Homo sapiens: one gene and its partner. The protein of the gene in region 2 purifies or fractionates together with the protein of the main gene of each other region. This does not show direct contact. Each region holds a gene or a part of one and is shown on either strand. Other genes may lie near its edges.

Region 1 (3,817 bases), on a different chromosome or scaffold from region 2:
GTAGAGTTTAAATTTCTTCTTGTAAACAAATTAATCCTAGTGCAGTTCTGTGCTACACATTTTTAGCAATGAGTAATGCAGACATCTTCTGGTGCAGGCCAGTACAATAAGCTTCAAAGGTTATCTCAAGACCCTGTTGTTGGCTTGATGGTTTTACTTATAACCAGTTTCGATGTTTACCTTTCACAGAATGTCTTATTTGACAGCTTTAGATGACCAATTTAACCAGGCTTATATATGGCGCCAAATACTGGTTTCACGGGAAAGAAGGTCTGATCCTCTTTATGAGCATTTCTTCCTGCTTCCAAAGAATATGTTGTGAAATTAAAGAGGGTGAAGTTTAACTATGGTAGAAGTAGACTGCCAGTCCTTTTCTGGTGTACCATTTTAAAAAAATACAGGCACATAACACTAGCCAAAGATTATACCTTGATTACATTCCCAAAAGGCAGATATGCTGCAAACATGCAGAGATTTCATTTATTTTGTTTGGCACATGGGAACTACATTTTGTTCCTATTATCTGTGTGTTTCACTTTGCTGTGCAGATTTTCATCCAATTTTTTTCAGGGGAGGGCATATACATTTGTAGGGCTGTATCTATCCAATTCTGCCTGTAACAAACACCCAAACATCCTAAAATATCAATTATAAGACAGACAAGTGTAATGTAAAACTCTGGAGAACATCAAAGAAAAATGGCCATGCATCTGCTCTTTAATGTTTTCCTACGATATATTAAAATAAAAACAAAGTTTCAGTCTCTTCACAAGAAGTAATTTATATTCTCTGAATTTTTTCAGCCACAACAACTGGATTCTCTTTTCTGATTTTTGCTGCAGCTTCTGCTTTGTAATCATACGGACAGTTGTGCTTGTCAGAGTAACGGTGAAGTCCACAAAACAAATTTCCACATCGGCAGTCAAACCCTGTACAAACGAAGAAGTAGAGTCATTTGAGAACTTGAGGCAATTAAAAGAAAAAAAAGCCTTAGTCACTATAGAAAAGGAACCAGATTTTCATTGCTTTGTAACATAAAAGACAGTGAACTCTTTTCTTCCACTTCCTGGTGATAAGACACAGTCAACTCTTACAGAGTCTATCACGTTAACCTGGAAAAGGAACTTTTAACTTCCTTTGACATGGTGAGAAATTCAAATAACTATGTTCAGTCTTTCCTTGCAAGGGCAATAGCGAAGTGTTTGGTAAGCCAAACCACGTGGAGAAAACAAAATGGGCTATCTGCCAGCTAATTTCTCCCAGATGCTCTCCCTCTATCGACTCCTGTAGATGCAACGCAGGATAAAATTTACACAGGCTCTGGAGTTAGGCTAAGCTGGATTCAAAACACAGTCCTACCATATCTTAAGTAATGCTTCCTCAAGTGAAAACAACCATCAAGGTCTGAGATTTGAAGGAGACAAGAAAAAAAGCACCAAGAACATTCCCTGCATAGCTCAAAGTAGGTGGCGCTTACTGTTAGTTCAGTAACATTTTCCCTAGGTATACAAAAACTTTTTATCAATCTAATAAAATAAGAGGGCCTGAGTTAATAGTTTTATATGATTAGGAGACAAATGGAAGTAAAACCCAACTTCTTTCCACCCCAATACCACCTCCTCCACCTTTCCTAGACTACAGCTAGTCAGGCTTTTTTTTTTTTTTTATGTGTAAGACCAACTAGTCTCTTAGGGAGTGACCAAAAGCTCCTTGTTAACTGCAGAAGTAAAACATACATTGTCTTGTGTTTTGTAATACCTGTAAGACCAACTTTCTTTCTGCACATGAAACATCTGTTTTTCTTTGGTTTGGGCAATTCAGGAGCTTTTTCTTCACTCTGAGAAGTACTGGGCTGAGAAACTGATGGACTGGGCTGAGTGACAACTGAAAAGGACAAAAACACAAATTTGTCAAGCATTCACTGGCTAACATTTTTAAGTCAAAAAAGGAAGTATTTAAGAGAAACAGGAAGATGCCTGATAAAAATGTTTATAAGTATTCCTTGAAAATACAAGCTTTAAACAGAATCTTCCATTTTAACATCAGAACTTGATTCAAATCTGAGAAATTCCTGCCAATCACCATACTACTTGCTTCTCTAATTTTGTAAAATGATCGCTTCACTCAAGAAATTCCTTTAAAACACTGGTAACAGCCAGTACTAAAAACAAAATCCTAATTCTGTTTTAAAGAGCTGGGAGATGTTAATCATATGCTCAGTTTTTCCACGTTATAATTTCCTAAATGCAAACTTTTCAATCAGGGCAGTTCAAATTCATTACATCACAGTAAATAACAGTAGCCAACTTTGATTTTATGCTTATAGGAAAAAAAATCCTGTAGATATAAAAACAGCAAATTTTGACAAATAAAACTCAAACCATTCATCCCTAAATCAACGTCAGATCCAAAAATTCCAAAACAATCATTTTACCATTTTCACAGGTGCACTAAACATCATAGGAAGACTTGAAAGATTTTTTTAAACCTTGGTTTTAAAAACAGATCGGCAAACAGTCTTTAGAAACTACTCGAGAAGTATTGATTTTAAACTATTAAGGATTCCACAGGCAGAACAAGAATCTTATCTAAAATGGGCATCCACTATCGACAGAGATAGCATCTACAAACAGTCCCACCGTTTCTCCACCTAAAAAGGCTTTAAGTTTCAGTGTACACATGGCATCAATAAAATTTCTCACAATGAACAAAAAATACATTACTGTACTAAAGCCCACACTGCCACTAGTTCTTTAACACAAAAATAACAAAATTTATATCTACTTACATATAATTCAACTACACCTGAAACACTATAAACTCAGGTTTTAATATTAATCCAAATGTAACAATAGCAAATTTATGTATGCAATGCTGAAATTACTGCCCAAATATGCCAGCACCAATGCTATTAGCATATAGACAAGCTCCTACAACAAGCTGATTGATTTAATGGCAATTTTCTCTAAAACTCTGCCCAAATTTATAATTCAATTGCATTAGCAATGAATCTACTGGGAGAAATAGCCTAATATTAGACTAAACGAACAATATTCTACCTACTGCTACTGTGACAACATTAATGTTTATCCTGATGTCATGAGGATAAAGAATAATCTAGGGGAATAGTTGTATGGGGTAGAGGGAGGGTGTCAGCCATTTCTTTGGCCACATCTGAAAAATGAACTACGGCTCCTGAGACAAGGGAAGAAGGGGGAATAAGAAAATGACACAGAAAAGGCAAATAGCAGTGAATCACAGAATGCCTACTAAGTAATAATAAATGCAGACTAGCTCTAACCCAAGACTATTCTTCCAAGGTCAGAGTAATTTTGTATTTAAAAACCAAAACCAAAAACAAAAACCCAAACAAAGGCATCACGGGCAAACTAATGTGGTCAGTTTAAGGATGGAGCTCATTTCAAAATGCCAAATATAGATTCACCTGCCAAACTTGAGAATTTGGCCTTAACTTTGTAAGATTAATACAATAAACAAACTTGACTGCTGTTAGCAAAAGCCAGCCTCCAAAGCAGACTGTATAACCACTGACAGTATTTTTTCACAACAGAAGTTTTATATTGCATTTAATCAGCACTCTGCCAAAAAAGAACAAATTGATAAAATAAGCTACGTGCACTATATAAAGCACAGAAATCTTTTTGTTCTAGGGCCTAGTACAGGTAATTCAAGTCAGTCTTCTTCCACCATCAGGGCACTTCTGGTTGTGCTATATAAGCAAAGTTTCCAAAGTCACCATATCTCATGAAAACCAAAATGCCTTTCCACACTGAGTTTCAAACTCCCACAAAATATG
Region 2 (3,817 bases):
CAGGCGCGTGCTGCCACGCCCAGCTAATTTTTGTATTTTTAGTAGAGACAGGGTTTCACCGTATTGGCCAGGCTGGTCTCGAACTCCTGACCTCGTGATCTGCCCACCTTGGCCTCCCAAAGTGCTGGGATTACAGGTGTGAGCCACCGCGCCTGGCCGACCTGTCTCTTAAAGGAAAACAAGGCTGGGCGCGCTGGCTCATGCCTATAATCCCAACGCTTTGGGAGGCCAAGGTGGTGGATCACCTGAGATTGCAGTGAGCTGAGATCGCGCCATTGCACTCCAGCCTGGGCAACAAGAGCGAAACTCCACCTCAACAACAACAACAACAACAACAAAAGGAAACATGTTTTTCTGTTTCTTCCTCTTAGCCTTGCTCATGTGTGTGTGTGTTTGTGTGTGTGTGTGTGTGTCTGCGTGCCAGCCAGGGAAGAACTGGTTTTGATTTGATGCATATTCAGTTTTTTTTTTTTTTTTTTTTTTTTTTTTTTTTTGAGACAGAGTTTCGCTCCTGCTGCCCAGGCTGGAGTGGAATGGCGCAGTCTTGGCTCACTGCAACCTCCGCCTGCCGGATTCAAGCGCTTCTCCTGCCTCAGTCCCCCAAGTAACTGGTACTATAGGCATGCACCACCACGCCCAGCTAATTTTTTGTATTTTAGTAGAGATGGGGTTTCACCATGTTGGTCAGGCTGGTCTCGAACTCCTGACTTCAGGTGATCCACCCACCTCGGCCTCCCAAAGTGTTGAGATTACAGGCATGAGCTACCACACCTGGCCGCATGTTTAGTTTTTTAACTCTTATTAATGTCAACTTTTAAAAGTAAAAATTTCATATTGTGTTACATTGGTTGCCATCAAGATGAAGATAGGGAAGTTAAGAGTTGGGGAAGGTGGAGATGAATGAAGTCAATTGATGAAGACTAGTAGAATGTAGTGTTTGTTTTTTTATTTGTTTATTTATTTATTTTGAGACAGAGTCTTGCTGTATTGCCCAGGCTGGAGTGCAATGGCACAATCTTGGCTCACTGCAACCTCTGTCTCCTGGGTTCAAGCAATTCTCCTGGCTCAGCCTCCCAAGTAGCTGGGATTACAGGCATGTGCCACCTGGCTAATTTTTGTATTTTTAGTAGAGACAGGGTTTTGCCATGTTGGCCAGGCTGGTCATTTACTAATTCCACCTCACACTTGATACTAGAGTAGTGTTTACCCTAGCTGGTACTGATAAGTTATGTGATAGCACCAAGGTGAAATGCAGGAGAGGTGTGAACATTGGAGTTTTCAGGTTTTACTGATGGCTTTTACGAAGGGAAGAGATTCTAGACTCACTAGGTGTTTTTAGGAAAAAAAAAAGGCAAGAGGCAAGAGACAGAAGTCTTGTTCTGTTGAAGAGAAAATTTTTTTTTGGGTTTTTTTTTTTTTTTTTTGAGACGGAGTCTCGCTCAGTTGCCCAGGCTGGAGTGCAATGGCATGATCTCTGCTCACTGCAACCTCCACCTCCCAGGTTCAAGCGATTCTCCTGCCTCAGCCTCCTGAGTAGCTGGGTGCCATCACGCCTGGCTAATTTTTGTATTTTTGTAGAGACGAGGTTTCACTGTGTTGGTCAGGCTGGTCTCGAACTTCTGACCTTGTGATCTGCCAGTCTCGGCCTCCCAAAGTGCTGGGATTACAGGCGTGAGCCACCGCGCCCGGCCCGAGAAAATTATTAAATGTTCTTTCTTTACTTGTGTTCTCTGATTGGGAGAGTAACCTGGTATATGTTAGTCTGTTTTCCTGCTCTGAAATAACTGTGAAATTCATGGGCTCTTGGTTCAGGCAGCTTCAGCAAACATAGTCTTCTTACAACCCCAGGAAGAGTTGCAGGCTACAAAATATATGTACTTATTTGGGAGTAAAAACCTGCTTAATATTATGCTATTGCAACCTACAGTGTACCTTTTTGGTTTGTTTTTTAAGGGGATTTTGAGATAACATATGGAGGCTCGGTGCTCCTGGGCGGACTTTTGGTACAGCCTGCTTATTTTTTTTTTCTTTTCTTTTCTTTTTTTTTTTTTTTTTTGAGACGGAGTCTCACTTTGTCCCCCAGGCTGGAGTGCAGTGGCGCAATCTCGGCTCACTGCAAGCTCCGCCTCCCAGGTTCACGCCATTCTCCTGCCTCAGCCTCCTGAGGAGCTGGACTACAGGCGCCTGCCACCACGCCCGGCTGATTTTTTGTATTTTTTTTTTTTTTTTTTTTGTAGTAGAGACGGGGTTTCAACTTGTTAGCGAGGATGTCTTGATCTCCTGACCTTGTGATCCACCCGCCTCGGCCTCCCAAAGTGCTGAAATTACGGGCGTGAGCCACCGCGCCCGGCCCAGCCTGCTTCTTTAACATAATGATTTTCCATTTTTCCTATCCTGTCACAGTTTTCCGTTGCTCTGCTTGAGCCAGTCCTATGTAGAAAGTGGCAAATTACACATTTTTTCTCCCCTTTTAGTCTCTGGTGGACATCTTGTCTGTGTCACAGTTTGATACTACCAAATTGAAAGGATTCTTCACTGCTTCAGATGGGGAGGGTGACAGAAGCTGAGCTGTTTCCTGGGTCAGATAATGGCCTCTGTCAAAGCAAAGAATAGTTGTAGAGACACAAACTGGGCCCTTGAAGCTGTGACTAACATTTTGGCAACATGCATCCCTTTGCCAAATAACTTCTTTTCTTCTTGAGTGTGATTGTTGATCTCCTTCTCAAAGTAGGCTCTTGTTGCTACTATTCTTCACACAACTCCCAAGCAAAAGTTGGCAGAGTTCCGGTTGACTGACTGTGTCTTGAGGGATATGCCCCGGATTAGAGTGGATGGGGCGTTCCATGTCAAAATGAGGTTCATTGGCAGATCCTGAGAGCTGCTTTGCAAAGAAATAGAGGCAGTACTCTTTACTGAATGTTCTTGCGGTCCTTTATCTTTCTTCTAAATTCAAGTCTGTTTCTTATTCATCTAGTGATTAAATGCAGAATCATTGCCTTTGCCTAGCTTCGTGGGCATTGTGGAAGAGAAGACAGTATTTCCAACTTTTTTTTTTTTTTTCTTTTCTCACAAGCCATTGAGCCTGAGGAACTACAGGCTAAATTTATGAGCATTTCTTGATATCTACAGAGGGCTACTAAAAAAAAAATGCTGAATAGACCTTTATGGGGAACAACAATGTTAATAGGAAAAAAAGGTGATATGTTTGCTAATGTCTATGTCAGTCTTAACTCTCTTTAAGATTTTGGCTCATTTTGGCTTAAGAGCCTGCAGAAGTATGTAAGTTATCAAATAGGGGAGCCAGGAATTGGTTTCTTCCTTGCCATTTAAGCTTGGCAAAGTTAGAGCAATTTGGAATGGCTATCCAACAATGTGTTCTACTTAGTAAATACTCTCTTGTTTTTCAGGGGATAGTTAGCTAAAGGTAGGGTTATCTCCAATATGTTTTGGGATGGATCGTGAAGATCATTCCCTTTTTATTTTGAGACAGGATCTCTCTCTCTTGCCCAGGCTGGAGTGTGGCGGCGTGATCTGTAGCCTCGACCTCCCCAGGCTCAGGCTCAGGTGTTCTTCCCACTTCAGCCTCCTGTGTAGCTGGGACTACAGGCGCACGCCACTATGCCTCACTAATTTTTATTTTTTGTAGAGATGGGGTTTCGCCATGTTGCCCAGCCTGGTCTTGAACTTTTGCCGGCCTCCCAAAGTGCTGGGATTATAGGTGTGAGCCACCAGGCTCAGCCATTATAATTGATTTTCAAAAAAAATTTAGTTTCTTAAGCTTCATGGATTCAAATTGAGTGCCATTTGGATTTTGAGG

What was found.
Region 1: the proteins of WIPF2 (region 2) and ZFAND5 fractionate together in Homo sapiens (co-fractionation; one large-scale study listed by BioGRID). This does not show direct contact.

The regions. Positions count from the first base shown.
Region 1 is NC_000009.12:72,355,173-72,358,989, forward strand, and holds part of ZFAND5 (AN1-type zinc finger protein 5), read right to left. Parts: intron 1,885-3,817; coding exon 1,759-1,884; intron 930-1,758; coding exon 781-929; 3' UTR 1-780. UniProt on the Homo sapiens protein: Involved in protein degradation via the ubiquitin-proteasome system. May act by anchoring ubiquitinated proteins to the proteasome. Plays a role in ubiquitin-mediated protein degradation during muscle atrophy.
Region 2 is NC_000017.11:40,222,194-40,226,010, forward strand, and holds part of WIPF2 (WAS/WASL-interacting protein family member 2), read left to right. Parts: intron 1-3,817. UniProt on the Homo sapiens protein: Plays an active role in the formation of cell surface protrusions downstream of activated PDGFB receptors. Plays an important role in actin-microspike formation through cooperation with WASL.